Regions from separate parts of the Homo sapiens genome. Here region 2 is linked to region 1. Evidence: fine-mapped expression QTL. A gene starts in region 1. The other region holds a variant in brackets. All regions are shown on one strand. Distances are between the middles of the regions.

Region 1 (16,084 bases):
GTCCCAGGCTAATTTTAAAGCAACTCATAGAACTGATTTTGGAAGAACAAGTATGAGACTTTGCAATGAAAGGAAAACAAAACAATTTACTATAGATTTTTCTAGACAAATGACGGTGCCCACATTTATACATATTTTCGAGATGAGGTTTCACTATGCTGTCCTAGCTGGTCTCAAACTCCTGGGCTCAAGGGTTTTTCCTGCCTCATCCTCCTGAGTAGCTGGTACTACATGTATGAGCCACTGCTCCTGGCTTAATGGTGTCCATATTAAGGAAATAAAATTACTTGAGTAGAAAACAATGGGTCAGAAATCCTGCTTTGTTTCTAGATGGTGCATTCTCTTCTAGTGACCTTAATTTTGTCATTCCTAACAGGAGAATGGCACCATTTCCTCAATTTGGAATTTAAGTTGATTGCAGTCTCATACCTGGTAAAGTTTTTCCCTCCAAAAGTGCCAAAATAATACAGAATAATTTACAAGTCAAGAAAAACTACTCTAAGAAAAAGAAAATATTGTAACATAAAGCATCTCAGGTGGCACTTTGGGCTGCCTCTTTTTTTTTTTTTTTTTTTTTTTGAGATGGAGTCTCACTCTATTGCCCAGGCTGGAGTGCAGTGGTACAGTCTCGGCTCACTGCAACCTCCACCTCCCGGTTTCAGGTGATTATCCTGGCTCAGCCTCCCAAGTAGCTGGGATTACCGGTGCCTGCAACCACGCCTGGCTAATTTTTGTATTTTTAGAAGAGACAGGGTTTCGCCATGTGGGCCAGGCTGGTCTTGAACTCCTGACCTCAGGTGATCCACCTGCCTTGGCTTCCCAAAGTGCTGGATTACAGACACGAGCCACCGCGCCCGGCCTAGGGCTGCCTCTTTAAAAAAAAAAAATTCTGAAACAAAGAAGAAGGTTGGCAGAAGCTAATGTCCTCCGGGCTTTGGTCTTTACTCTTCTACATATAGCAGAATTCCTAATGCTCTTGGTAAGAGGTCAAAGAGTGTATGGAGTTGGCTGTTGGAATTTTAATTTTTACATCCTTTCTGGCTTTTGTCATAAGTTAAAGATGAATTCCTAAACTCTTGTCTCAGGCCAGCATACATCGTGATTAGGGACTGTGCTTTAAAAGAATTGTGAAAATGCTTTTTGTGAAAACATTACAGAAACAGCAGACAGACTAATTTCTCTCTGTCTTTCAGTCTTATTTATAGATTCGTGTGACTCAAAGGATAACAAAACAGGCCAGTGGAGCCGCCTCTTTGACTCACGTCATTGTATTTCTTACACGGCTGTGCCCCTCTTCACTCTCCTTTCTCGGCTGAGATCTCTGGCACGTGGAGAGGCAGGAAGGGTTCTTTGTGAAAGATGCTAACTGCATTTCTTCAGAGAGAGCTTTCCCCATCTGCTCTAAAGGTCACATGGGCTTCAGCTGCTGATACTGACCGAATCATTTAAGAAACTCACTGTGCCGGATGAGGTGGCTCAAGTCTGTAATCCTAGCACTTTGGGAGGCTGAGGTGGGAGGATCACGAGGTCAGGAGTTCGAGACCAGCCTGGCCAACATGATGAAACCCCATCTCTACTAAAAATACAAAAATTAGCTGGGTGCAGTGGCATACCCCTGTAGTCCTAGCTACTCAGGAGGCTGAGGCAGGAGAATCACTTGAATCCAGGAGGTGGAGGTTGCAGTCAGCCGAGATTGTGTCACTGCACTCCAGCCTGGGCAACATAGCGAGACCCTTTTTTTTTTGTCTCCAAAAAAAAAAAAAAAAAAAAAGAAAGAAAGAAACTCACTGCATCCTAAGCCCAAACAAGACAGTTCCCCTCTAGTACCCCAGATTCCACCAGATACTATGTATTCCAAAAGCCATCTTTCACTGCTCTAGCTCCCAGCAACCTCTCCTTCTTCTGCTCCTTCTGAACTAGAACTTCAGCGACCTCTCCGTTTTCTTCTCTTTCTGAACTAGGACTTATCTGCTGAATGATATCACTGGCTTATTTTATATTTTTGGATTTTTAAAAAATCTCGTTTTCCTCAATGAGATTGTAATTATCTGAAGGATAGGGGCAGTCTCTTTTGTTATGTCTATTACAGATTCTGGTGCACCCAGGACAGTGTGGCATAGGGGAAATAATCAGGTAGCCTGTTTGAATGATTACTATATGGGCTAGAAGACAAATCCAGAGATGGAAGGACTACATTTGAGTCTGGCCTCTACTGTATGAAAGTGTGACCGATCATTTAATCTCTCTGAGCCTCTCCTCCCCTCCCCTCCTCCTTTTGTTTCTCTCTCTCTCTCACTCTTTCTTTTTTTAATATATTTTTTGAGACAGAGTCCTATTCTGCCACTCAGACTGGAGTGCAGTGGTGCAATCATTGCTCACTGCAGCCTTACCTTTCTGGTGTCAAAAAATCCTGCCTTAGCCTTCTGAGTAGCTGGGACTACAGGCACATGCCATGATGTCCAACTAATTAATTTTTTTTTTTTTGAGACAGCATCTCACTTTGTCACCTAGGATGGAATGCAGTGGCGCGATCTTGGCTCACTGCAACCTCTGTCTCATGGGTTCAAGCAATTCTCCTGCCTCAGCCTCCTGAGTAGCTGGGATTACTGGTGCGTGCCACCATGCCCGGCTAATTTTTGTGTTTTTAGTAGAGACAAGGTTTCACCATGTTGGCCAGGCTGGTCTCGAACTCCTGACCTCAAGTGATCCACCCACCTTGGCCTCCCAAAGTGCTGGGATTACAGGCATGAGCCACTGCGCCCAGCCTGAAAATACTTTTGTAAATGTAAGACACACTGTACTACTGTTACTTATAAAGGGCAGTCAGTAAATGCTTTAGTTGAATGATGAGGCGGCACAAAAATTTCAGTATTTACATTCTTATGATGCTTCAGGCTTTTCAAAGTGCTTTCATGTAGCTGATCCCTTTTGCATAACAAGCCACTCTAAATCCATTTTGGAACAGGCAAGACAAATAAATATTGGAAAGCTGAGTAAACAGGCTCAGAGATGTTTAACACCTTGCTCTGGGCAAAAAATGAATTAAACCTAGCCAAGACTGGCATCTAAGTGGTCTGTCTGCTAGCCAATGTTTCTTCAGTTTTATTTTTTGTTGTTGTTCTTTGTTAAATTGTTGTTATTATTATTATTTACTTATTTATTTTCGAGATGGAGTCTTGCTCTATCGCCCAGGCTGGAGTGCAGTGGCGCGATCTTGGCTAACTGCGACTTCTGTGATTTTCAAGTGATTTTCCTGCCTCAGCCTCCCGAGTAGCTGGGATTACAGGTGTACGCCACCATGCCTGGCTAATTTTTGTATTTTTAGTAGAGATGGGGTTTTGCCATGTTGGGAAGGCTGGTTTTGAACTCCTGACCTCAGGTGATCTGCCTGCCTCAGCCTCCCAAAGTAATCATGTTGGGATTACAGGTGTGAGCCACCGTGCCCGGCCTATTCATTGTTAAATTGAAGCAGTCCTCGGTAGTAAACAAAACCATAAAAATAATAATCTTTGGCCAAGCACAGTGGCTCATGCCTGTAATTCCAGCACTTGGGGAGGGTGAGGTGGGAGGATCACTTGAGCCCAAGAATTCCAGACCAGCTTGGCTAACATAGCAAAACCCCGTCTCTACAAAAAAAAAAAAAAAATTAGCTGGGTATGGTGGTATGCACCTGTAGTCCCGGCTGAGGTGGGAGGATCACTTGAGCTCGGGAAGTCGAGGCTGCAGTGAGCTGTGATTGTGCCACTGCACCCCAGCCTGGGCAACAGAGCAACACCTTGTCTCAAAAAAAAAAAAACCAAAATTTTTTTCCTAGTTATTATCTCTTACTAAGTTTGTTTAACACTTTCAGGATATTGTTGTTTTAAAAACAAAAATTGGCCAGGCACGGTAATACCAGCACTTTAGGAGGTGAAGGTGGGCAGATCACCTGAGGTCAGGAGTTCCAGACCAGCCTGGCCAACATGGTGAAACCCCATCTCTACTAAAAATACACAAATTAGCTGAGTGTGGTGGCAGGCACCTGTAATCCCAGCTACTCGAGAGGCTGAGGCATGACAATCTCTTGAACCTGGCAGGCAGAGGTTGCAGTGAGCTGAGATCACGCCACTGTACTCCAGCCTGGGCAACAGAGCAAGACTCTGTCTCAAAATAATAAATAAATAAAATAAAAACAAAAATCCATAAAACTGCATTTTCTTATAAGAATTTTCTTTTTAACTAAAAGAATGGTGTGCTCGTTGCAAAAACAAAATATAATATAATATAATAAAGTAAAAATTATCTGTAATCCCATCATCCAAAAAAGCCATTTTTTTGTTGTTGTTTGTTTTGTTTAAGACGGAGTCTCGCTCTGTCCCCCAGGCTGGAGTGCAGTGGTGCAATCTCTGCTCACTGCAAGCTCCGCCTCCTGGGTTCACACCATTCTCGTGCCTCAGCCTCCCGAGTAGCTGGGACTACAGGCGCCCACCACCACACCCGGCTAATTTTTTGTATTTTTAGTAGAGACGGGGTTGCACCATGTTAGCCAGGATGGTCTTGATCTCCTGACCTCATGATCTGCCTGCCTTGGCCTCCCAAAGTGCTGGGATTACAGGTGTGAGCCACTGCGCCCGGCCCAAAAAAGCCATTTTTAAATTTTAGTTTTGTCCTTCAATTTTTTTCTATGCATGTAAGTTATCAGTAGTAAACAAACCCATAAAAATAATAATCTTTGGCCAATGGCAGTGCCTCACGCCTGTAATTCCAGCACTTTGGGAGGGCAAAGTGGGAGGATCGCATGAGCCCATGAGTTCCAGACCAGCTTGGGTAACATGGCAAAACCGTGTCTCTACAAAAAATTTTTAAAAAAATTAGGCGGGCATGGTGGTATGCACCTGTAGTCCCAGCTACTCAGGAGCCTGAGGTGGCTCAATATACACTTTGCAAGCTCATTTTATAACATTGTTTTATAATATTTCCTTTTAAAGTCTGCCATACTATAATAATAAGGTTTTCATTTTATTGGTAGCATAGTATTACCTTTTATAGATGTGCTGTAATTTATTTATCTGGAATTAGGGATTATGTTTGAGAAGATGGGGAGTAAGCCTTTCTAAACTTAAATCACTAGCCATGGAAACCAAAGATTCCAAGATAATGTGACTATGCTACATATTGGGGCAATTGCTTTTATTTATTTATTTTATTCATTTATTTAAAAGATGAGGAGGCCGGGCATGGTGGCTCATGCCTGTAATCTCAGCCCTTTGGGAGGCCGAGGCAGGTGGATCACCTGAAGCCAGGAGTTCGAGACCAGCCTGGCCAACATGGAGAAACCCTGTCTCTACTAAAATATACAAAATTAGCTGGGCGTGGTGGCGCATGCCTGTAATCCCAGCTACTCAGGAGGCTGAGGCAGGAGAATTGCTTGAACCCGGGAGGTGGAGGCTGCAGTGAGCCGAGATTGTGCCATTGCACTCCAGCCTGGGCAACAAGAGTGAAACTCCGTGAAAGAAAGAAAGAAAGAAAGAGGGGCGGGGAGGGGGGAGGAAGGGAGGAAGGAAGGAAGGAAGAAAGATAGGGTCTCACTATGTTACCTGGGCTGTTCTCAAACTCCTTGGATCAAGTGATCCTCCCACCTTGGCCCCCCGAAGTGCTAGGATTACAGGTGTGAGCCACTGTGCCCAGCTGGGGCAACTGCTTTTAATTTTAGTTGCATGGAAGAAGGGTTTGGTAATTATAAATAAAGATAAATGGCCTGGGCGCGGTGGCTCACGTCTGTAATCCCAGCACTTTGGGAGGCTGAGGCGGGCAGATCATAAGGTCAAGAGATCAAGACCAGCCTGGCCAACATGATGAAACCCCGTCTGTACTAAAAATACAAAAATTAGCCGGATGTAGTGGCACGTGCCTGTAGTCCCAGCTACTCGGGAGGCTGAGGCAGGAGAACCACTTGAACTCGGGAGGTGGAGGTTGCAGCAAGCTGAGATCATGCCACTGCACTCCGGCCTGGCGACAGAGACTCTGTCTCAAAAACAAAAACAAAATAAAGAGAAATGTAAGTTAAAAAGTACTGAGAAAGGGTTTAGTTTTTAATGTTTAAAACTCTTTAACGCTCTGCACTCGATATGGTAGGAAAAAAGATCTTTCCGGGGCCGGGAGCGGTGGCTCACGCCTGTAATCCCAGTACTTTGGGAGGCCAAGGCGGGCGGATCACGAGGTCAGGAGATCAAGACCATCCTGGCTAACATGTGAAACCTCGTCTCTACTAAAAACACAAAAAACTAGCCAGGTGTGGTGGCGGGCGCCTGTAGTCCCAGCTGCTCTGGAGGCTGAGGCAGCAGAATGGCGTGAACTCAGGAGGCGGAGTTTGCAGTGAGTTGAGATCGTGCCACTGCACTCCAGCCTGGGGACAGAGTGAGACTCCGTCTCAAAAAAAAAAAAAGCTCTCTCCTCCTTAGGTAGCTGGCTTAATTTTTCTTTTGTGGTTCACAATGATACACATTTAAATTTGACCTCTAAGCATTTTTTTGTGGTGTTCCAAACGGAATACTTTAGCTAACTCTGCTTTGCAACCTGCAAACTTCTTACTTATGTGGAAACCCCAAACTAAGTTTGGCCTGTGTTCCCTGCATAGCTATACCTCAGAGGAAATTGTGTTTTGGCTTCATTCCACTATTTACTAGCCTTGTAGTCCATGGTTGCACTGTACAGTAGCAGCATGGCAGAGGATCTGAATTCTGTAAACATTCTGTTCTCTAAACCACTTGTTGGGGGTTGACTCCATCCACCCTGAGAGTGTAGGTATGTGTGTAGGTAGGTAGGTAGGTAGGTGGGTGGGTAGGTAGGGGTGGTGGAAGATTGTGGTACCCTATGCTAATTTATAAAATGGCACTCTGGCCTGGCATGGTGGCTCATGCCTGTAATCCCAGCACTTTGGGAGGCCGAGGTGGGTGAATCACCTGAGGTCAGGAGTTCGAGACCAGCTTGGGTAACATGGTGAAACCCCGTTTCTACTAAAAATACAAAAAATTAGCTGGGCGTGGTGGCATGCGCCTGTAGTCCCAGCTACTTGGGAGACTGAGGCAGGACAATCACTTGAACCTGGGAGGCGGAGGCTGCAGTGAGCCAAGATCACGCCATTGCACTCCAGCTCGGGCAACAAGAGTGAAACTCTGTCTCAAAAAAAAAGGCACTCTATAGCTCTGTAGCAGAACCCCAGTGGAGGAGGGGAGAGGATGTGTCTTTTAGCCAAGTTAGTTTCTTGGAGCCTCTTTTTCCTTATTTGTAAAACTAAGTTACTTATGCTTGCCTAGCCTGACTCAGGAGGTTGTCCAGAGGGTCAGATTAGATTATACACATGAAAGTGCCTTATGAACAATGTGATATCAATATTTAATAATACAAATGATAATTATTATCGCACCCATGGCCTCCTTTCTTTCCAGCCACTTGGCATGCCCCAGTAGTTCAGGGACAAAATTGTACAGATGGGCCTACTTGGTTCAATTTTTTTTTGTTTTTGTGAGACAGGGTCTCACTCTGTCGCCCAGACTCGGCTATCTGCAACCTCTGCCTCCCAGGTTCAAGCGATTCTCCTGTCTCAGCCTTCCGAGTAGCTGGGATTACAGGTGCCCACCACCATGCCCGGCTAATTTTGTATTTTTAGTGGAGATGGAGTTTCACCATGTTGGCCAGTCTGGTCTCGAACTCCTGACCTCAGGTGATCCGCCCACCCCGGCCTCCTAAAGTACTGGGATTACATGCGTCAGCCACTGTGCCCGGCCTACTTAGAGCAATTTTTGTTAAGTGTTTTGAAATCCCTGCATGAAAATGACTAAGGAAAAAAGTGCAACCTTCTCTCTATGACACCCAAATCCTAAACTCAAGATTTGTGGTTAGTTCTGGCCAGGCCGGTGGCTCACACCTGTCATCTCCACACTTTGGGAGGCCGACGCAGGCAGATCACCTGAGGTCAGGAGTTCAAGACCAGCCTGGCCAACATGGCGAAACCCTCTCTCTACTAAAAATGCAAATATTAGACGGCCGTGGTGGCGGGAGCCTGTAATCCCAGCTACTTGCGAGGCTGAAGCACGAGAAATTGCTTGACCCCGGGAGGCAAGGTTGTAGTGAGCCGGGATCCCGCCACTGCACTCCAGCCTGGGCAACAGAGCGAGACTTTGTCTCAAAAAAAAAAAAAAAATTTTTTTTGTGTGGTTGGTTCTGTTCTCTTTGGCACCCAGCCTGCTGCTGTGTTGTATTGTACTTTGTTGCCAATCTAGCAGAAGGATTTTAGTCTAGGTAGGTCACCTTTCCTTTAAACAGGCCAAGATATCAGGCCCTCTTTACATTCACATGGAAAAGACTCACGTCATATGTTAGTAATTATTTATCAGGTTAGGAACTGTCTGGTTAGACTTTCTTTGGCCCTGGTTATTAATTCATGGAGTCATAGACCGAAAGCCCATTCTGTAAGGGTTTCAGCTAACATGAGTCCAAGTCTTCTTTCTACATATGAGGAAATTGAATCCCTGGAGAGTTTAAGTGACTTGAGCAGTGCAAGCACCGCGGTACCGGGCGTGGAATCCATTCTTTTCAGTCATCCTCTTAACTCTTCATAAAATATGTTGCAAAGACACCATAAAACCATAGAATACCACCTGGAGCATGCTCCTTAAGTTATAAAGAAAGCAAAAATCTTAAAGGAGACAGCAAAGAGTTCGGGATTCCCGTGGACGAAGACCTTTTCAGCCCTGCTGTCTTCTCCGCCCCCACCTGTCTCGCTTGCTCTCACTTCCTGGGCTACCTGACTTAGCTCCGCCCCCTCCAGGTGGCTCCACCGCTTCCTGGTAGCCCAGCTCCACCCCCCCTACCCCCCCACCCCCCTACCCCCCACCCCCCTACCCCCTCACCAAGCGGAACCAATGTCCGTCCGCTACGGGGTAGGCCGGATCTTTCTCGCTCAGACTCATCGCAGCGGTGACTCGGCAGCAGCGTCTCGCGTCATCAGTGACAGCCCCGATCCTTGCTACGTTTGCGTCGCTCTGCCAGGAGCAGTCGCCTCCTCCTTGGCAAATAGTCCTCGGCAGGGTCCGAGTTCTTGGATAATTCGAGAGAAAAGGCACGATAAGTTGCAGTACGAGGACACGGAAACGACCAGGAGAGGAGGACAGGGAGCGAAGTTTCCTCAATAGTGTGTGAAGTTAGTTAAAAACTCCCTCCTTCCTCAGGATCCCTCCGCCTGCGGTAGCGGTGGTGAGGCCGAGGGAGCCGCCATTTTGGATGTTCGGTTCCTGCTGCCACTGCTGCCGCCGCCCCCGGAGCTGCTGGTTTCATTCGAGGTTTCGGGCCGGTGAGTGTCACTCCCGGCGCTGAGAGCATATTGCTGCTTTTGCCCCGCCGCTGCCGCGGGCGCTCGACCGGAAGCTTCCTTTCAGTTTCAGGGGTCCAGTCCCAGGCTGTGGGTGTTGAGAAGAGAAGACAGAGAAGCTGGGCCAGGAGAGGCCGGGAGCCCCAGGGGCTGCTCCGACTTCTGGAGGGCCGACCCCGAGGCCTCGGACCGGGAGGTTCCGCGCGCCGCGGCGTTCCGTGTTGTGGCGTTGCCCCGCCGGTACGGGCCTCCTTGAACCCTTGACTTTCTCAGGCTGCGATCTTTGAGGGCTCATTCAGGGAGCCTGGGGTTTAGCGGGGCGGGCCCCACCCCCGCGTGTCTTCTCTGAGCCACGTATCAGCGTTCTTGTGTCTTGTACCCGTGTCAGGTCTGTCAGATAACTCCCAGCATATCCAAATGCCCAGTTAATCGCTGCCTGCCCCTGCAGTGCCGTCCTCTCGGAACCGGACATCGGCCTCGCCTCTCTCTAACCTTCCGACCAACTTCTTTCCCAATTTTTCGTGTGTGTGTGTATATGTTGTTGTTTTGTTTTTTTCAACCTACCTGCGAGTATACTGTTTACCCTTTTCTCAGCTCCTGGCCCTGCGGACGTCAGCGTCTAATAATTCTCCCGGTCTTCCTGATTGCCTGAAAGAGTCGGGACGGTTCGGTTGATTGTGTTTCCCGGTTAGGACTCGGTGTAGGAGATCCATCGAACCACTCGCTCAGGGTAATGTTTATGAAGCAGATTATGTTTATGAAGCAGATTAAATGGCTTTTGGGAGGCAAGAGCTGTCAAATGTTTTCTCATATGTGGATTCCCTCCCTGTGCTGAATACTTAGCTTTTTGGTGCTTACTGACACTTGTGTGGTATTTTTTTTTCTCCCCTATTATATATCCCTGAGCACGGAAATCTGTCCATGGAGAAAAATATTAATCTGAGGTAGGTAGAAAGGAGAGTTGGGCTGCTTTACAGTGATTAGTTAACAGAAGGGAGGAGTTAGTGCTTTCTTAGTGACCTTAACTTTGAAGTGTTTGTACAGTAATGATCTTTGCTGACTGATTCTAAAAAATACTTGTAATGATTTCATGTATTGGGTTTTTCTGGGGATAGCTGAATTTTAAATATTCACTTCCACCGTTCCCTAGAATACTTGTCAAATACCTAACTTGTCACACACCCTAACTTTCACGTTTGAAAAATATGAACCCTCTAAGTACTCGTAATCTCGTCACTTTTATTCTAAAGGCATGTTTGCAGTCTAGCATGCTTGAATAAAAAGTATGTCTTTATTTTTATTTATTTATTTTTTGAGACGAAGTCTCCCTCTGTCTCCAGGCTGGAGTGCAGTGGCACGGTCTCGGCTCACTGCAACCTACGCCTCCCGGGTTCAAGCAGTTCTCCTGCCTCAGCCTCCCAAGTAGCTGGGACTACAGGCACACGCCGCCACGCCCGGCTAATTTTTTGTTGTTGTATTTTAGTAGAGATGGGGTTTCATCATGTTGCCCAGGCAGATCTCGAACTCCTGAGCTCAGGTAATCCGCCCGCCTCGGCCTCCCAAAGTGCTAGGATTACAGGCGTGAGCCACCGTGCCTGGCAAAAAGTATTTCACAGTTATTCACTGATACATTTCCTACGTTTCAAGTTAGGCGAGTGTGATTGAATCACCCTTATTTCATCTCAGCCTGGGTTTTCACATCTGCAAAAGAGAAATTAACTTATTTGAGATCACAGTCTAGTGGTTGAAGTTTAAATTTATAACTTGAATTGAGTCAAGCTTTTTAATATTGCTAAGCCACTTATAGATGCATTATTATTATCAGGTTATTGAAATGAGATTGTAGATAAATTCCTCTATAGGTCATATGATGTCTCAGAAGAAAACAATATTTTCAGTTTAAATACTCAGTGATCTTGTTATTTAAGCAGATTTTTCAAAAATATATTAGTTACTATTAGATACGTGAGTTCTGTATTACCCTGAAGCAATGGAATTTTCTCTTTTGGTTTAAAGGAACTGTCAAACACTGAACACCTATGTAATGCTCACTCATTTAGTAAGTATGCCCTCGCAGTTACTACTGAAATGTTCCATTTCTGACTTAGACTTTTCAAGTAAGGTGTTAGAAGAGCTATCACATAGATGTTAGTTAACTCAGTGTTTTTCATGCTTTAATATATTGGTATTTAAATGTCATTCAGGCGGGCGCTCAGTGGCTCATGCTTGTAATCCCAACACTTTGGGAGGTGGAAGGTGGATCCCTTGAGCCCAGGAGTTGGAGGCCAGCCTGGGCAACCTAATGAGACTCCGTCTCTACCAAAATATTTAAAAATATTAAACTTTTAAAAATTCATTCTTAGATAGTTTGCATTCACTGTAGAAAGGGTCCTTTTGCCTTAACAAATTCCTAGCAAAGTGTTGTTTAGTGCACCATTGATCAGTGCATATTTGAATGTCTGCTTTGCGTTTAGGAAACCTCCGTTTTCTTTTGGGGGCAGTTGCTTGTTCTTTGGTCTGACCTCTGTCATTGATAGCAGTTCTAGATTTGAGGGCAGATTTTAGAGTGAAACTTTAAAGTACAGAATTTGCCAGGAATGCCTTGGTGATATTTCACCCCAGTGTTTATTTAAAAAAGGAGTTTTAAAAATCAGTGGTATGCAAACAAAACCAACTTCTTTATGATTTATAAAAACTCTTTTTTTTTTTTTTTATTATTTTTATTGTTTGAGACAGGGTCTCACTCTGTTGCCCAGGCTGGAGTGCAGTGGTCTCAGCTCACTGCAGCCTGGACCTCCTGGACTCAAGCGATCCTCCTGCCTCAGCCCTCCACGTAGCTGGGACTACAGGCGTGTGCTACCACGCAGGGCTAATTTTTGTATTTTTTGTATAGATAGTGTTTTGTCATGTTGCCCAGGCTGGGCTCAAGCAATCCTCTTGCCTCGGCCTCGCAAAGTGCTGAGATTACAGGTGTGAGCCACCTCACCTGGCCAAAACTTTTAATTTATACAAATTTAAAAAGTTGAATGAGTATTTTCCAAGATATTATTTTTAATTAAAAAAATTGAATTGGCAATCTACATACCAAAACAGATTTTCCACAATGCTTAATCCCCTTATTTGCATTTGATGAGGATTTTAAAATTTTGTGTATATAGCAGGACTTAATTGCTATCAAAACTTTAAAACTCTTACTTAGAGCTTCAGAACATTTAAAAATACTGTTTTAGGTGTTTGTAATTTAGTCTGTCCTTGCTTTATGAATTGTTTTCAGTTCTTTTTTGTTTGTTTTTTGAGACAAAGTCTTACTCTGTCTCCCAGGCTGGAGTGCAGTGGCTCGATCTCGGCTCACTGTGCAACCTCCACCTCCTGGATTCCAGTGATTTCTGCTGCCTCAGCCTCCCGAGTAGCTGGGATTACAAGCGTGCGCCACCATGCCCAGCTAATTTTTGTATTTTTAGTAGAGGCGGGGTTTCACCATGTTGGCTAGGCTGGTCTCGAACTCCTGAGCTCAAGTGATCCACCCACCTTGGCCTCCCAAAGTGCTGGGATTACAGGCAGGAGGAGCCACTGCGTTCAGTCTGTTTTCGGTTCTTGATTTTGGCTTTCTTTATTCTCTGTTGCTTTTACTCAGTTTCTAATGCAGAATAATGTTGAAAGTAGCAAACAATTTTTTTTCAACTCCTCTCAGCTTATAAGTAACAAGCAATTTTATTTTTATTGATTGATTGATTGAGACAGGTTCTCACTCTTTCACCCAGGCTGGAGTGCAGTGGTGCAATCTCAGCTCACTGCAGCCTCGACCTCCTCCCAGGTTCAAGTGATCCTCCCACTTCAGCCTCCTAAGTAGCTGGGACTGTAGGCATGTGCCGCCTGATTTATTATTTTTTTGTGGAGACGGGGATTCGCCATGTTGCCCAGGCTGGTTTCAAATTCCTGGGCTCAAGAGGTCCTCCCACCTCTGTCTCCCAAAGTGCTGGTATTAAAGGTGTGTGCCACCATGCCTTGCCCACAAGCAATTTTAAACTTAAGAGAGCAGGCTGGTGCAGTGGTTCATGCCTGTAATCCCAGCACTTTGGGAGGCCGAGGCAGGCGGATCACTTGAGGTCAGGAGTTTGATACTAGCCTGGTCAACATGATGAAATCCCGTCTGTACTAAAAATACAAAAGTTAGCCGGGCATGGTGATGTGCACCTGCATTCCCAGCTACTTAGGAGGCTCAGGTGGGAGGATTGCTTGAACAGGGAGGTGGAGGTTGCAGTGAGCTGAGATCACGCCACTGCACTCCAGCCTGGGTGACAGATGGAGGCTCTGTCTCAAAAAAAAAAAAAAAAAATTAAGAGAGCATATAGAAATCTTTTGTATTTCTTGGCTTACAGGTTTTGAAATGATCTTTGTTGGCTGGGCGAGGTGGCTCATGCCTGTAATCCCAGCACTTTGGGAGGCCGAGGCGGGTGGATCACGAGGTCAGGAGATCGAGACCATCCTGGCCAACATGGTTAAACCCCATCTCTACAAAAAAATAGAAAAATTAGCTGGGCATGATGGTGCGCGCCTGTAGTCCCAGCTACTCGGGAGACTGAGGCAGGAGAATCACTTGAACCTGGGAGGTGGAGGTTGTGGTGAGCTGAGATCACGCCACTGCACTCCAGCCTGGGGACAGAGCGAGACTCTTGTCTCCAAAAAAAAAATAAATAAATAAAATATGTTTATCAAAATGTAGTAGCATTTTTACAGTTGCCTTTTTGTATAGAAAATTTTATTTCAATGAGGTCAAGAAATAGAAAAGGGAAAAGAGGTGTCTTTTTTTTTTTTTTTTTTGAGACGGAGTCCTCCTCTGTTGCCCAGGCTGGAGTGCATCGGAGCCATCTCTGCTTACTGCAACCTCCGCCCCCTGGTTCAAGCAATTCTTCTGCCTCAGCCTCCCGAGTAGCTGGGACTACAGGTGTGCGCCACCATGCCTAGCTAATTTTTGTATTTTTAGTAGAGACAGGGCTTCACCCTGTTGACCAGGCTGATCTTGAATTCCTGGGCTCAAGTGATCCACCAGCCTTGGCCTCCCAAAGTGCTGGGATTACAGGCATGAATGAGGTGTCATTTTTACTTTGAAGATACGTGTTAAGTTTTTTTCTTCACTGACCTAGTAACACAATACACTTAATATGGCATGAGTTTTGGTTGCTGGAAAAACTGGTTAAAGTTTGAAGGGTCCAGAAGTGGGAGAAAAAAAACTCACTTGCCAAATGTGTTGAGTCAGCATTAACTAACACTTTAGCATAAAAGGGCAAGGTTTAGGATGAGATGATTGAAATGAGAAATGCTTTTTTTCACTAGGTACTTGGAAATTTTACTTTAAAAAAAAGCCTACTCAGACCATTGGAGAGATTTAATTAGTAAATCATAAATGTTGGCAACAAATTAAGTAGGTTTAGAAGGAAGAAGTCATTTTTTTAAAAGATGAGGAAAAAATACATGTGACTTTTGTAATTTATAAATAAAAACATCTTATTATTTATTTATTTATTCTTTTTGAGACAGAGTCTCACTCTGTCACCCAGGCTGGAGTGCAGTGGTGCCATCTCAGCTTACTACAGCCTCTACCTCCTGGGTTCCCGCGATTCTTGTGCTCAGCCTCCCGAGTAGCTGGGACTGCAGGCGTGCACCACTGTACCTGGCTACTTTTTGTATTTTTAGTGGAGACGGGGTTTTGTCACGTTGGCCAGGCTGGTCTCGAAATCCTGACCTCAGGTGATTCACCTGCTTCAGCCTCCCAAAGTGCTGGGATTATAGGTGTGAGCCACCGAGCCTGGCTAAAATATTTTAAATCTTTCAAAGATATGTAAAGATGTTACGTGTTTTCTCAACCTAAAAATAAACTTCGCTGGCCAGACCTGGTGGCTCATGTCTGTAATCCCAGTACTTTGGGAAGCCAAGTCAGAAGGATCACTTGAGGACAGGAGTTTGAAACCAGCCTGGGAAACACAGTGGGACTCTGGCTGTACGAATTTTTTTTTTGAGACAGAGTCTTGCTCTGTCACCCAGGCTGGAGTGCAGTGGTGCGATCTCGGCTCACCTCAACCTCCGCCTCCTGGGTTCAAGCGATTCTTCTGCCTCAGCCTCCCAAGTAGCTAGAATTACAGGCGCCCGCCACCATGCCCAGTTAATTTTTGTACTTTTAGTAGAGATGGGGTTTCACCATGTTGGACAGGCTGGTCTTGACCTCCTGACCTCAGGTGATCCACCCACCTCGGCCTCCCAAAGTGCCGGGATTACAGGCATGAGCTACCGCGCCTGGCCCAAAATTTTTTAAAGTAGCTGGGTTGTGGTGTCTTTGCCAGTAGCCTTAGCTGCCTGGGAGCCTGAGGCAGGAAGATCACTTGAACCCAGGAGTTCAAGGCTGCAGTGAGCTAAGACTGTGCCACTGCACTCCAGCCTGGGTGACAGAGATAGACTGTCTCAAAAAAAAGAGGTAAGTAAAAAACGCTTCTTTTGCTTCCTTTTAAGACTGAACACTTTTTCAGTTGTTTAGTTTTGAGGTTTAGTTAAATAGGTTCACTAACTTGAGCTGTAAAAACACTAATGGAACTCCTTTTACTTTGAGTTGTACAACTGTATAATCATTTATATAAGTTAGCTCTTTCAACCAAATACACATTGAGTATCTCTTATCTGAAATGCTTGAGACCAGAAATGTTTCATATTTTGGATTTTTTCAGATTTTGGAATATTTGCGTT
Region 2 (16,084 bases), 69 kb after region 1:
TCCTAGTGGACTGAATTACTGTTTCTCTTACCCTCTGGCTGGTAAACAAGAAGAAATGAGACATGTATCCATGTTCTTATTTGCACATTAAAGGACTGGCTTTAAAAGGGAAAATTGTGGCAACAACACTTGAACTCTGTATGTTTTTCTTTTCTTCTTCTGTTTCTGCCACTTGAAGCTCTAATATTGCCTCTCAGCCCCAGTGGTCATTTTTCACTCTTTTTACCCCCACCTGCTCTGGTTGATAGAACCAGAGCACTTTTTTTTACCCCCAACTACTCTGGTTGATAGAACAGCTTGGACAGTTACCCTGGCAAAGCACAGGTTGAGTTAGAGGCTTTTGTAACGGTAGGATTGTCTTTCTGGCTGCTTCCCCTGACTTGATATCAGATTTAGATGCTTAATCATGCTACTCATTCTTCATCGTCTTCTTTTTCCTCCTCCTCCTCAGGTAACAGAGGATGAAGTGTTGGATATTTTAGAAAGTGTCCTAATCTCTAATATGTCCACCTCTGTGACACGAGGTTATGCCCTCACTGCCATTATGAAGCTTTCCACTCGATTCACTTGTACTGTAAAGTGAGTATTGAAGAAACATAGGGTGAACAGGTTGTTTTGTAATTAAAAAACAAAAAAAATCCCAAAAAACTTGTTATCATGGAAAATTTCAAGCATAGACAAAAGTAGAGAGAATAATAACACAAATTTCCATTACTTATTTCTCCACAGTCACAGTGATCAATTTGTGGTTAATCTTTATTCATCAGCACTTTGTTCCCTCTCATTCTTTTACTCCCTTGTGGATTATTTTGAAGCAGAAAAGTTTAGGGGGTTTTGTTTGTTTGTTGAGACAGGGTCTCGCTCTCTTACCCAGGATGGGGTGCAGTGGCGCCATCATATTTTACTGCAACCTTGAACTCCTGGGCTTAAGGGATCTTCCTGTCTCAGCCTCCAGAGGAGCTGGGACTATAAGTGCACACCATCGTGCCTGGCTAATTTTTACATTTTTTTGTAGAGAAAGTGTTTCGTTTGTTTGCCCAGGCTGGTCTCAAACTCCTGGGCTCAAGTGATCCTCCTGCCCTGACCTCCCAAAGTGCAGGGATTACAGATGTGACCCACTCCACCTGGCCTAAAAGTTACGTTTTTAGAATGAGATTTCTAATACCTTTTTTTTTTCTTTTTAAGTTGAGAATCTACTTCCCCATATAAAGGTTTTGGTTTATTTGTATTTTATATTTCATTTTATTTTATGACAGAATCTTGCTCTGTTGCCAGGCTGGAGTGCAGTGGCATACAATCTCGGCTCACTGCAATCTCCATCTCCAGGGTTCAAGCAATTCTCCTGCCTCAGCCTCCTGAGTAGCTGGGATTACAGGCGCACACCACCATGCCTGGCTAATTTTTGTATTTTTTGGTGGAGATGGGGTTTCACCATTTTGGCCAGACTGGTCTCGAACTCCTGACCTTGTAATCTGGCCAAGGTTTTGGTTTATTATATTTTGACAAGTCTTAATAGGAATAAAATCATGAATGTTTTGGTGATTAAATCTTTTAATTCTCCTCTTTGCTTTTTTGAATAAAGTAGATTCTCAGGTCACTTTCCCACCCAAGCATATTTAAGGCCAACGTAGTTCTTGTAGTCTTTCTGCTTCACTTTTAAATGTGAAGTCTTATAAAAAATGGTATTGAATTACTTTTAAAATTCTGAACTGGAAGAATTTGGGGTCAACATTTTGAGGCTCTGACCCTTTTATAGATTAAAAATTATTTAAAAATTATCAAAGAAGAGAATGAACAGTACAAATTTCTTTTGTGGCAAAGTAATAGTTGGTACTTTTGTCTAGCAAAGTTTAGGGAGTGGCATATATATATGTGTTTTTTCCACACCATCATTGTTGCTGAATGGGGATGGCATATTTAACAGACAAAAATCTAGTGTTACAATGAGAATAGTATAATGCGAATGTCAGATAAATGGATGAAAGTAAAGTGTTTTGTTTTTGAAAAACTATATAAATTAAGAAAAAATGAGTATTTCAGTATTTTAACCAGAAAATTCTGGCTTATTAAACATTATCTCTGCTTATTTGTGAATTTTCTTTTGGGTATTTTATTTCGTTTGTCATTTTATCTATAGCCGAATTAAGAAAGTGGTTTCCATCTACGGAAGCAGCATTGATGTGGAACTCCAGCAGAGGGCAGTAGAATATAATGCACTTTTCAAGAAATATGACCACATGAGGTGAGCGAAAGAAACTAAGCAATGCGTGTATCTCTTAGCATCCTGACTAAATTGTCATGGTAATCCATAAAGAAGATTCATTCCTTGTGCTTTATTAATTGTTCCTCGTATCCCTATTTAGTTCTAATTGCTTGTCTGCTTCTGTTTTGTCCATCTTCTATTCTGCCTAGTCTCTAAAGAAATAAATTAACTCTCTTTCATTCCACCTCCAACACTTACACTTTTTTTGATATGGAAAGTTTGCTTTATTTTCTATTTTATTTAGTTAAGAAGTGGGAGGCCGGGCGTGGTGGCTCACGCCTGTAATCCCAGCACTTTGGGAGGCCGAGGCGGGCAGATCACGAGGTCAAGAGATCGAGACCATCCTGGCCAACATGGTGAAACCCCGTCTCTACTAAAAATACAAAAAAATTAGTTGGGCATGGTGGCGCATGCCTGTATTCCCAGCTACTCGAGAGGCTGAAGCAGGAGAATCATTTGAACCTGGGAGGCGGATGTTTCAGTGAGCCAAGATCATGCCACTGCACTCCAGCCTGGCGACAGAGCAAGACTCTGTCTCAAAAAAAAAAGAAGTGGGAGTTGTATTTTTTCAAGACAAATAATCTCATTCAAATTCTTTTACTGTTAACATTCTAGTGTTTGGGTCATCTTTTATTCTTCTATTATACAGTATCTTCTTGACTGTTAATACCTATGGATTTACCTTTCTTTCATCTCAGTCTCTCTACCACTGAAATATATGCTTTGGGATTTAGCTGGGCAGTCTGTTTATTCAAGATTTTTTTGTCTGCCCTTAATCCAGCCAGGAATTTAGGTCATGTATTCTTGTAATCTACCTTCTATTTTAGTGTGTGTGTTGGATGGGGAGGGGAGATAGATCTCCATGCTTGGGCTCAACATAGTTAATGGTGATTATTTTGGGTAGGGAATCTAGGTTAACTGCCTAGAATTTAACCACTTCAGATTCTTCTAGGTCTGCCCTACTTGAGAGAATGCCTGTCATGGAAAAAGTGACCACAAATGGCCCTACTGAGATTGTGCAGACAAATGGAGAGACAGAACCAGCTCCACTAGAGACCAAACCGCCACCCTCTGGGCCACAGCCCACCAGCCAGGTAGCCAGCCTTTCACTTGCTCATCTGGGGCTTCTTACGATTTTATAGTCCCTTACAGCTTGTCTCTTAGCTGAGTCCCTTTAATGTTCCTGGGTTGGTTGATGATTTCCTTCCTTATTTTTACATATTGAAAGAGCTTTGCATTAGATGTATACTAGACAAATCAAATAATAATGAATTGAGGTGTTGTTACCTTGTTTAGGCCAATGATTTATTGGATTTGTTGGGAGGAAATGACATAACACCTGTTATTCCAACTGCGCCTACAAGCAAACCATCTTCTGCTGGTGGAGAACTTCTTGATTTGCTGGGAGACATCAACCTTACAGGTGAGGCAGTCTGGAGCTATTTAATACCTGGGAAAAGATAGAGGCCTCAGGGAAAAACTAAACTGAACCCAGACTTTCCAGCACGTGAATCATTTGAAGATGGGAGAGGCTAAATCAGAAGCAAGAGTCAAATCTTCACAATATCCGGGTTATATGTTGTATACTAATAATGCTCTAAAGATAATTTATACGGATTTCTTAAAGGCAAACTCCTAATTTTGGGTGAATAAATTATTCATAGTGTTTTAAGATAGAAACTACTTTTCCTGGCTGGGCGCAGTGGCTCATGCCTGTAATCCCAGCACTTTGGGAGGCAGAGGCAGGTGGATCACCTGAGGTCAGGAGTTCTAGACCAGCCTGGCCAACATGGTGAAACGCCATCTCTACTAAAAATACAACAATTAGCCGGGTGAAGTGGTGCATGCCTATAATCCCAGCTACTCCGGAGGCTGAGGCAGGAGAATCGCTTGAACCTGAGAGACGGAGGTTGCAGTGAGCCGAGATCGCGCCAGTGTGTACTGCAGCCTGGGTGACAGAGCAAGACTCTGTCTCCAAAAAAAAAAAAAAAAAAACACACTTTCTCTTTCAAGCTCAAAAAATATATCCCGTATCACCTTTGCTTTTAGTGTCCCAAGACATGACTTCTTCTTGGTTCCTTCCCACTAATGGTTAGTTTTCAGTAGCTGTGGCCATTTGTGGAGAGATGTTAACCTGCTACTTACCTCTTCCCTTTCACACTTTCTGTAATTAAAGCAACTGAAGGGCAATCACTCATAATATTCAAACATAACTTTTCATTTGGGAATATTTTTTCTTCTGTTCATATATACCAGTCATTTGTAATTGACATGTTCAGCAATATGATAAACCCGAGTCCAATACAACTTTTATTTTTATTTTGAGATGGAGTCTTGCTCTGTTGCACAGGCTGGAGTGCAGTGGCACGATCTCGACTCACTGCAACCTCCGCCTCCCGGGTTCAAGCGATTCTTCTGCCTCAGCCTCCTGAGTAGCTGGGATCACAGGCACGCACCACCATGCCCTGGCTAATTTTCGTATTTTTAGTAGAGATGGGGTTTCTCCATGTTCGTCAGGCTGGTCCTGAACTCCTGACCTCATGATCCCCCTGCCTCGGCCTCCCAAAGTGCTGGGATTACAGGCGTGAGCCACTTCGCCTGGCCTTTTTTTTTTTTTTTTTGAGACAGAGTCTCACTCTGTCACCCAGGCTGGAGTGCAGTAGCATGATCTCGGCTCACTGCAGCCTCTGCAACCTGGGTTCAAGCAGGTCTCCTGCCTCAGCCTCCTGAATAGCTGGGATTACAGGCGCCTGCTACTGCGCCTGGCTAATTTTTGTAGTTTTAGGAGAGACAGGGTTTCACCATGTAGGCCAGGTTGGTCCCGACCTCGTGATCCACCCACCTCAGCCTCCCAAAGTGCTGGGATTACAGGTGTGAGCCACCACGCCTGGCCTACAACTTCTATCCTAAATTTCAGTGTAAAGTATAGCTGAAAGGTTAAAGTGTCTTTTTTTTTTTTTTTTTGAGACAGAGTCTCACTCTGTCAGCCAGGCTGGAGTGCAGTGGGATTATCTCGGCTCACTTCAACCTCTGCCTCCTGCGTTCAAGTGAGCCTCCTGCCTCAGCCTCCTGAGTAGCTGGGATTATAGGCGAATGCCACCATGCCCGGCTAATTTTTTGTATTTTTAGTAGAGACGGGGTTTTGCTGTCTTCTTTAAGAGGATAATGAAGAGTTAAAGCACACATGACCTTGAGTAAAAAATAGACATAGGATAACAAGTTGGATGGTTAGCTAAGCTCATTCCCACAGGCTGATTTTTTTTTTTCCTAATACAGTGGAGTCACAGAGTATAGGATTTATGTCTGTGTCTTAACAAAATTTCAAAATGTTACTTGTCATGTACTTATGAATCATTTACAAATGGTCAATTTCAAATCCTCAAATGTCAAAGCTGTACTGGATAACCGGCAAAGAAAAAACAACCCCACAGTTAAACCATAGCATATACTTCACCTAATATGTTAGTATTTCCATGTTAATATATATAGCCTTCATAATTATAATTTTAGGTGACTAATACTTTATCAACAAATTTGCTCTGTTTACTCAGTTCGTTAGTATTGGGTAGTTTGGCTTTTTTTTTTGGTTTTTTTGAAACGGAATCTTGCTTTGTTGCCCGGGCTGGAGTGCAACAGCACGATCTCGGCTCACTGCAACCTCTGCCTCCCGGGTTCAAGTGATTCTCCTGCCTCAGCCTCCCGAGTAGCTGGGATTTATAGGCACGTGCCACCATGCCCAGCTAATTTTTGTATTTTTTTATTAGAGATGGGGTTTCACCATGTTGGCCAGGCTGGTCTTGAACTCCTGACCTCAAATGATCCTCCCGCCTTGGCCTCCCAAAGTGCTGGGATTACAGGCATGAGTCACCGCACCCAGCCAGTATGGGGTATTTTGTTTCTAGATTTTTCTTACCTAGCGGCCTCAACAAATATTACATCAATTTGTTCTTATTTTAGATTAATTTGTTAGACTAAGTGACTTAGTCTTTCTGAATCTGGTTAAAATTAGGATGATTAATACTTACTCCATAAGATATTTGTGAGGCCCATTGACCTATTCAGTGCATGATACATAGTAGGCACTTGGTAAATATTATTTACCTTTTCCTCAATTTATATGTTTAACCGCACAGTCATAAGCATTGTATATTATCATTTTAAAAAGCCCTATTGGGTGAAAATTTGGTCCTATTATATTTTATTTTTATTATTATTTTTTAAATTTTGTAGCCCTCTGCCAGGCTTGGTCAGCAGAGAGAGGCCCTATTATTTTTTGATCACAGAGAATGTTTAATATTTATTCACATATTTGTATTATAGATGAGGTTCCTTTCTGAACATTCCTGTATCCTTAGCTCATTTATTGTGGAGTCTTTTCTTTTTGTTCCTACTGTCTTGTTTTCCTAGTGTTATATGTTAAAGCAAAATGATAAAATGTTAAAAAGTCTGGGTTTTCTTGCCTTATTCATAATGTGTTTTAAAGATGTTTTTCCACTTTTTACATTAAGTTTTAAAATTTTGAATTCTAGATTTCTTAATTTATCATTACAGTTTTACCCCATTATATAGAAATTTAAGTCAGTAGAAATTCAGAATAGATTTAACATGTGTTTTTAAAGGGTTTGGAGCAGTAAGTTTCTGCTCTTCTCCTAAACTACCTTGCTATACTTTTACAGGACAAAGAAAAGTGAAAATTTGAGGGAGTTGGGGACCTATATGCTGCCTGTATCTTGAGTAGCCTCTGATTTTCCATGAGAACACATTTCTAAAATTGTTTTGAAAATGGGAATTGGGGGAAATTTTCTCGATTTGATTTTTTAGACTAGGAGAACTGTATGAATATTTCTTTGTCTGCTTCATTGATAATCTGCTGGACTGCACAAATGGTGTTTGCATTTATTTTAGCTTCTCGTGCTTGCTTAGCCATCCGTATTTCTATTCTCTTTGCTAATTTTTAATATGTCATTTACTTGTTTTTGTTTTTGAGATGGTGTCTTGCTCTGTCACCCAGGCTGGAGTGCAATGGTGTGATCTTGGCTCACTGCAACCTTTGCCTCCCAGATTCAAGCGATTCTCCTGCCTCAGCCTCCCGAGTGGCTGGGACTATAGGCGCGTGCCACCACACCCGGCTAATTTTTGTATTTTTAGTAGAGATAGGGTTTCGCTGTGTTGGCCAGGCTGGTCTCAAACTCCTGACCTCAGGTGATCCACCCGCCTCGACCTCCCAAAGTGCTGGGATTACAGGCATGAGCCATCGCGCCCAGCCTGTCATTTACTTTTCTAGTATTCTTTAGTATCTTTTTTCCCCCTCATTCTTGCTGTCAATTTCTTAAAAAAAGATGATATTCTAGCCTTCCTTTATTTCATTGTGATAGTTCTTTTTTAAATGGCATATTTTCAGTTAATTTCACAAGTAGTTTGAAATCTATTTAAATATTAAATACATTCTCTTAATTTTACTGAATTTCCTTATGCTTCTTCTTCGAATCTTGATATCCCTCATGTTCTATGAATTATCTTCTATTGTATGATTGTCAAGTTGTTCTTATTTGGAAAGATTAAATAAGAATGGTAATCTATTTCTTTTTCCCACCCCACTTTATACCACCCCTCACAGGGTGCGTGTGTGTGTGTGAAAATTTTATTATACAGCATTTAACATCTACAAAATTTAATGAATGTTTTGATCTACCTAGTTTGTAAAATAAAATATTAAGAGGGTTGATGTTCTTTGTGTATTTCCCTCTCATCCCATTTCTTTTTGATTCCAGACGTAACTACTGTCTATCCTAAAGTAGTGTTTAACATTGGTGTTTGCCATTCCTGTGCATTTCTTGATATAGTATGTAGTATTATTTTGCCAATTTTTACCTTTTTAGACAAGGTATCCAACTGAATGTGTTCTTTTTTGCACCTTTTTTTGCTAAACATTGTAATTGTGAGAATGAGTTATGAATAATCCATGTTAAGTGTATTTCTAGTGAATTCACTTTTTACTGTTGTACATGTGTAGTATTTTAGTATATCAATATATCAGTTTACTTATTCATTATCAAGATGACAGACATTTTGGTTGTTTCCAGTATTTCACCATTAGGAGTGTTCCTGCTATGAATGCTTTTGGATGTATCTCCCAGTGAACACATGCAAGGATTAATTAAAAGCATTCCTAAGAAGGGGTAATCGGTTCTCAACTGGGGAAGATTTTGCCCTCCAGGGGTTGGCAGTGTCTGAAGATATTTTTGGTTGTTACAACTGGGAGGATGCTACCGTCTAATGCATAAAAGCCCAGGGGTGCTACTTAATATCCTACAATAAACAAGGCAGCCCCCTACAACAAAGAATTAGGAAGCCTAAAAGCTATTACTGTCAAGGTTGAGAAACCTCAGTTTAAGGATATACTGATGTTCAACTCTACTGTTGCCAAATTACTCTCTAGATTGGTTGTGCCAGTTTACCTTCCTATAGCAGAGCTTAAAATTTCCCATCGTTCCATCTTCTTGCCAACATCTGGAATTATCAGACATCGAAATTTTCACCATTCTGGTAGACATGAGGTAGTATCTCACTATAATTTTAAATTCCACTTCCATCATTACTGGTAAAATTGAGCATCTGTTTGTAAGATTCCCTTTTCATTCAGGTTTCCTCTTTTGTGACTTGCGTGTTTTTATATCTTGACACTTTTAAATTGGGTTATCTGTTTCTTATTGGTTTTATAGAAGACAGTTATCGTTTGGATACTTATCCATTCATTACTGTATAGCAAACATTTTCTCCTGTCTGTGGGCTCTCTCTCTTTACTTTTTTTTTTTTTTTTGCGACAGAGTCTCGCTCTGTCCCCCAGGCTGGAGTACAGTGGTGCAAGCTCACTGTAGCCTCAACTTTCCAGGCTCCAGTGATCCTCCCACTGCAGTCTCCCAAGTAGCTGGGACTACAGGCGCACACCACCATGCCTGGCTAATTTTTGTATTTTTTTTTGTAGAGACAGGGTCTCGCCATGTTGCTCAGACTGTACTTTTTCTTACAGTATTTTTTAATAAACAGAAGTTGCTCGTTTTAAAGTACTTGAGTTTTTAGTTCTTTCTCTTTGTGGTCTATGCTTTTTGCATCTTGTTTAAGGAATCTTTCCTTAACCTGAGACCGAAATAATTTTCCCTATAATTTCTTGGTAAGCTTTGTCATGCTGCCTAAGGTTAACTTTCCATTAAAATATTTCCTTTAGGTGCTCCAGCTGCTGCTCCTGCCCCTGCCTCAGTCCCACAGATATCCCAGCCCCCCTTCTTGTTGGATGGGCTTTCATCACAGCCTCTCTTCAATGATATTGCTGCAGGTACGATGACTGTTGTTACCATCATTACATGGAGCACTGAGTAATGAGATGTGGTTATTAAGAAAAAGAAGTAATAATTCTGCAAGCATTAGGCTGACTACAATAAGACTTATCTTCCTGTACTTTCTCAGGCATCCCCTCCATCACAGCATACAGTAAGAATGGCTTGAAGATAGAATTCACCTTTGAACGGTCAAATACCAACCCCAGTGTAACAGTGATAACGATACAGGCCTCCAACAGCACAGAGCTAGATATGACGGACTTTGTTTTCCAAGCTGCAGTACCAAAGGTACTACAATGTCTTCTTTAGATGTTTCCTTTGATTAAAGATTGGCTGG[C/T]TTTTTTTTTTCATGTGTTTGGTAAAGGATATGTTTTAATGTTTACAGATTAAATTTGTAGACTTAATTCAAACTAACAATAATGTAGCTTATGGTTCATGGAAGCATATCATTTTTAGTGAATAATTTTTACTAGGTTACAAGTATTCTGATGGTTAGCATTGTAGGATAAAGAAAAACAATTCTAATAGTAGTGAGAGCAGAATTCTACGAGGTGATCAGTTAATGCTCAGGGCATTGAGGATAGGTTAGGCTTTAGTAATACAGTGTTAAAGACCTAAAAACATAAAATATGGCATAGGATTAAAGTTAAGTAAGATGAGAGACTTTGTCTATCTGGTATTATCTTCTAGTTAACCAGATCAGAATTGAAATTTTTTCTCTCTTGATACATAAATGAGAGAAACATTCCTCCTTCGTTAACATCCAATTTATTATAGATACAGTAACTGTTTTTGTGAATCAAGGTTTGGTTTACACCAAATTTTAGTTTAAGGATATTTATGTTCATTTATGAATAGTGAAAAATCTTGAGGCCGGGTGCAGTGGCTCACGGCTGTAATCCCAGTACTTTGGGAGGCTGAGGCAGGCAGATCACTTGAGATCAGGAGTTCGAGAACCTGGCCAACATGGTGAAACTCCCGTCTCTACTAAAAGTACAAAAAAAAAAAAAAATTAGCCGGGCGTGATGGCAGGTTCCTCTAATCCCAGTTACTCGGGAGGCTGATGAGGCAGGAGAATTGCTTGAACCCAGGAGGCTGAGGATGCAGTGAGCTCAGATTATGCCACTGCACTCCAGCCTGGGTGACAGAGCGAGACTCCATCTCAAAACAAACAAACAAAGAGTTCTAAATAAAGAAAAGTTGAGAATGAGGAGTGGGTAGTTTTTCTTAAAAAGATGAGACAGTAAGTATTTTAGGCTGCTATCTGGTCTTTATTGGTACTCAGTTCTGCTCTTATAGTACAGAAACAGCTGTAGATGACATGTAAATGAATGAACATAGTTCTGTTCCAATAAAATGTTATTTGCAAAATCAGATGTTGGGCGATTCTTGGCCAGTGGGCCATAGTTTGCCAACCACTGGTTTAGACTAAGCTAACCTAATCTTGGCAGTGGCATGTGAAATATGGCATTTAGACATTCCGACAACACACTTGGACTTGGAAATTGAGGATGTTTTCTTTGTTTGTGGGTACTGCTGACTTTGCAGTCTTTTTTTATTTTTTCCCCATCCTCTGACTCTCATGCAACCCTCTTTGCTTACACTTTGTAGGAGCCAGAATAATTTAGATGTTTAAGAAGCAGTTAGCTGGACACGGTATCTCACGCCTGTAATCCCAGCAATTTGGGAGGCTGAGGCGGGTGGATCGCTTGAGCTCAGGAGTTTGAGACCAGCCTCAGCAACATGGTGAAACACCATCTTTACCAAAAATACAAAAAATTAGCCAGGTGCAATGGTGCGTGCCTGTGGTCCCAGCTACTCAGGAGGCTGAGGTGGGAGACTCACTTGAACCCAGGAGGTGGAAGTTGCAGTTAGCCAAGATCATGCCACTGCACTTTAGCCTGGGTGATAGAGTGAGACGCTGTCCAAAAAAAAGAAGAAAAAAAAGGGGAGCAGTAGTGTCAATTGGTGAAAGACCACTAATGAACTCTAGAGCCATTCTGTTTGGATTTTAGTAGTAGTTGTATGACATGAAGAAAGTCACTGAACCTCTATGCCTCAGTGTCTTCATTTGCAAAGAGGGTGGTGATAATGATAGCCACTTCCTAAGGTTGCTTAAAGGAATAAATAAGTTTTTTGAATCAGGCACTGTTTGAAGCACTTTTCATCTGTTCAGTGCTCAGTATATTTAGTTTCTTCAACTTAGGTTTTATACTTGTTACTTTAGGCTGCTGCTCTAGTGACTTATCACTTCTGCTATTAAAACATGACATTTTTGGTGGTGTACTGTACAGTGCAACATGATAATGTATTTTCAACTTAAAATGTCATATTTTGCTGGGCGCGGTGGCTCACGCCTGTAATCCCAGCACTTTGGGAGGCCGAGGCAGGCGGATCCCACGAGGTCAGGAGATTGAGACCATCCTGGCTAACACGGTGAAACCCCGTCTCTACTAAAAAAAAAAAAAAAAAAAAAATTAGCCGGGCGTGGTGGCGGGCGCCTGTAGTGTCAGCTACTTGGGAGGCTGAGGCGGGAGAATGGCGTGAGCCCGGGAGGTGGAGCTTGCAGTGAGCCGAGATCACCCCACTGGACTCCAGCCTGGGCAACAGAGCGAGACTCGTCTCAAAAAATAAATAAATAAATAAATAAATAAATAAATAAATAAATAAATAAATAATAAATTAGCCGGGCGTGGTGGCGGGCGCCTGTAGTCCCAGCTACTCAGGAGGCTGAGGCAGGAGAATGGCATGAACCTGGGAGATGGAGCTTGCAGTGAGCCGAGATCGCACCACTGCACTCCAGCCTGGGCGACAGAGCGAGACTCCATCTAAAAAAAAAAAAAAAGTCATATTTTATAGGTTCTACTATGTACTAATTTCGTGTTTTAATGTTTCTAAAATTAGGATACATTTAAAAATTGGTATCTTGTCATAATTCAGTGGGCAGCATGTTTTCTATCTCAGTGGTACATAAAATAATGGTGTGAATTACGATTGGTATCTTACATTTAATGAAATATGGTAGTAATGAATAATACTTTAGCTTACATAATTTTAATGTGGCAGAATTATGAATAAGACCATATATATATATATATATATATATATATATTTTTTTTTTTTTTTTTTTTGAGATGGAGTCTCACTCTGTCACCCAGGCAACCTCTGCCTCCTGGGTTCAAGCAAATCTCTTGCCTCAGCCTCCTGAGTAGCTGGGATTACAGGCATGCGCCACCATACCCAGCTAATTTTTGTATTTTTAGTAGAGATGGGGTTTTGCCATGTTGACCAGACTAATCTAGATCTCCTGACCTCAGGTGATCTGCCCGCCTTGGCCTCCCAAAGTGCTGGGAATACCGTGCCCAGCCCCCAGTGTAATATATCTGTACATTGAGAGTGAATCTTCACTCTTGCAACTTTTGGCCCTAGAGAAGACTAGTGTCTCTCTCTCTCAAATATTTTAGAAGTTTAATCTACTTTTAGGAAAGATTTTCAAATGCTAGTTCATACAATAGCTACGTAGTACAGTATGGTTTACCTAGCTTGCCCTATATAGCACTTTTTTTTTTTTTTTGAGACGGAGTCTTGCTCTGTTGCCCAGGCTGGAGTGCAGTGGCACAGTCTCGGCTCACCACAACCTCCTGGGTTCAAGCGATTCTCCTGCCTCAGCCTCCCGAGTAGCTGGGACTACAGGCATGTGCCACCATGCCCAGCTAATTTTTGTATTTTTAGTAGAGACGGGGTTTCACTGTGTTGGCCAGGCTGGTCTCGAACTCCTGACCTCGTGATCCGCTCGCCTTGACCTCCCAAAGTGCTGGGATTACAGGCTTGAGCCACCACACCCAGCCAGCACTTTCAACTCTTATTTCTATAAGCAAGCAAATAAACCCCACCAGCATTCAACAAATTAATACTGTTTGGCTTATCTAGGTCTTTTGCTGTATAGGCTGGTTCTGCAAGTCTTTCCGTTCCTTCTGTCATGTGGAGAGGAGGCTCTGACACATTATAGATTATGCAGGCTTTAAAAAACAAAAGTTCAAGTCTCTGCATCCCAGTTATCCAATCACACAAAAGCCTAAAAGCTTATAGTTGGTGACCAGTATGTTGGTTTGCTATTTTTGGGAAGCTTTTCTTTTCATTTCTTTCTGGCTGTTTTTTAAGCCAAAAGCACCGATATTTTACTTGCATAGTTGATCAGTTACCATTAAGTGAAGTTGCCAGAAGAAGAATTGGTCAGCTTTTGAAAAGAGGTAGGCTAGAATTCCTTCTGCCAGAAAGGAGAATGTGGTTTATTACTAGTTGTCATGATCAAAGAACCGAACAGTGGATTTTTACAAATACCACAGGGAGTCAACTCACGTGCTGTGAATTCCTGATATCTAGAAAACAAGTAGTAGGCAAAACTTAGTAGTAGTGAAATCTGTTGCTTGACCCATCATCTGGGTGTCTAAATGGTTTTTGGTATCTCTGACCTAGCGTTGTGTAATTCTTTTTCTGAAGAGTGCCCTTTGTTCCCCCCTAGACATTCCAGCTGCAGCTCTTGTCTCCTAGCAGCAGCATTGTCCCAGCATTTAACACGGGGACCATCACACAAGTCATTAAAGTTCTGAACCCTCAGAAGGTGAGTAGCACATTTGTAGCCAATATCTGAGCCGAAGTGTAAGCATATTTCCCGAAATAAAATTCTGCTTTGTTTCTTTAGGTTTTTCTGACTCATAGTTAGAGAAGAGATCAATGAAAATGCCTGGTCTAACTTCCTTGCTCTTTTGTAAATAACAAATGGAACCCAGAGACATCAGGTGGCTTAGTGGCATCTTATTAAAATGCAACTTCAAAAAAAGCTAGATTAAAGGTCTGGTTTTTGGGGGTAGGGGAGAAGCTTAGACATTTTAATTTATACACAAGTTGAAATCTGAGGTAAGAGCATTTGTTGAAACCAAATACCTACATTTACTGCTACAGTTATTAAGTATGAATAGAAAAATAGAGGCATTTTAAATGAAGCAGCCAAATGAAAAATAGCTTTAGAAACTGAAATTAAGCAATATTTTTATTATCTCTTCTCAAAGAAATAAGCTCACCTTAATAGTAATCAGTTGGTTTTCAGTTTTTGAAAATGGTTCAGAGAATTTCTTTAATAGAGCTCTACTAGTTGCTCATAAGTAACAGTATACTTTCTTTCTCTTGTAACACTTGCCTTTCCTCTGCTATTCACTATATTTTGAGCATCGGCCTCTATAGTACAAGCACAAACTCCTTTGACCATCTGATACAGAGAGTAAAAAATGTCTTAGTGCATTTGTATTTGAAATCTGCCATACAAAAAGTGTCTAATTGAGTTCTCTTAAAACTACTGCTGTTACCTGTGAGTTAAGTCATTTTTTAAAATTTTATGCTTTAGGAACAAAAGGTCATGTTCACATTTACTGTAGGTTTTTCAGATAAAGCAACAGTGTATCTGAATGGAGAGCGTACGATGAGTATATGTTCACCTCATTTTTTAAGAGACTTGGATACAAGGTTTGAATCTTTTTGAAAAGGACTCAGCAAAATGTTACTAGGAGAATGCTCCATGGTGGCTCACGCCTGTAATGCCAGCATTTTAGGAGGCTGAGGTGGGTGTATTATCTGAGGTCAGGAGTTGAAGACCAGCCTGGCCAACATGGTGAAACCCCGTCTCTACTAAAAATAAAAATATTAGTCTGGTGTGGCGGTGAGCCAAGATTGTGCCACTGCACTCCAGCCTGGGCAATAAGAACAAAACCCTGTTTCAAAAGAAAAGAAAAGAAAAAATGCTCCCAAGGAGTTCTGTCCTTTTAATGCAGTTCAAGGATTAAAGCTAACCGTGTATTCTGCAGATGCGCTTTCTCAACTTGGTGGCATGACATTGTTAGCTTCTTGGCTCAAGCCTAGAGTACTGGGTGTTTTTTGTTGTTGTTTACCTGTCATTCTTAACAGACAGCTTTGCTTTAAGTTTTGACCTCTAAGATTAAAAGTCTATTTGTGGACCGGACAGATTCTGGAGATTTCATTTCAGTATATAATTTGCACTTCTCTTTTCCTCTTATAGCAACAGCTGCGAATGCGGATCAAGCTTACATATAATCACAAGGGCTCAGCAATGCAAGATCTAGCAGAGGTGAACAACTTTCCCCCTCAGTCCTGGCAATGAGGGTTTGGCACCATTCTCATTCTTTATCCCACTCAATCAAAGGAACTCTGGGAAGGAGGTTGTGATTGCTGGCAAGTCCCCCCCAACTGTACCACGGGCATGAGGAGCTGAAGAGAACTGCTGAGGAGGATTTTCCTAAAGTTACTGCTGACCTTGAAGCATTGTTAAAGACTAATGTCCTCTCCTCCACTGTTGAGGCTGGCTGCTTCTGGAGGCTACTTTGCACTCTTCCTCTTCTCCTTTTTCCGCACTTCTCCACCCCTCCCACATTTACAGCCAGAATCAACATTCCCTGGGCCCCTGAGGAAATAA

Evidence for each region. PIP is the estimated chance that this variant, and not a neighbour inherited with it, causes the effect.
Region 2: its variant is the best candidate, but not a certain one, in a credible set for the expression of AP1G1 in whole blood (TOPMed, PIP 0.72).

What each region holds. Positions count from the first base shown.
Region 1 is chr16:71,802,010-71,818,093 of GRCh38, reverse strand. AP1G1 (adaptor related protein complex 1 subunit gamma 1) reads left to right here and starts at 9,260. Exons shown (of 23, transcript NM_001128.6): 1 at 9,260-9,331. LOC124903714 (a long non-coding RNA gene) reads right to left here and starts at 9,136. Exons shown (of 2, transcript XR_007065110.1): 1 at 8,892-9,136; 2 at 1-32. RefSeq lists enhancers at 8,209-8,288, 8,849-9,538, 9,482-10,129.
Region 2 is chr16:71,732,746-71,748,829 of GRCh38, reverse strand. AP1G1 (adaptor related protein complex 1 subunit gamma 1) reads left to right here. Exons shown (of 23, transcript NM_001128.6): 16 at 452-579; 17 at 2,138-2,242; 18 at 3,216-3,357; 19 at 3,560-3,686; 20 at 9,489-9,596; 21 at 9,728-9,888; 22 at 14,123-14,221; 23 at 15,671-16,084. The coding sequence ends at 15,772. Among named protein-coding and RNA genes, the nearest start is that of PHLPP2, 16 kb to the right of the region's middle. The variant C/T (reference allele first, on the strand shown) is at 9,938.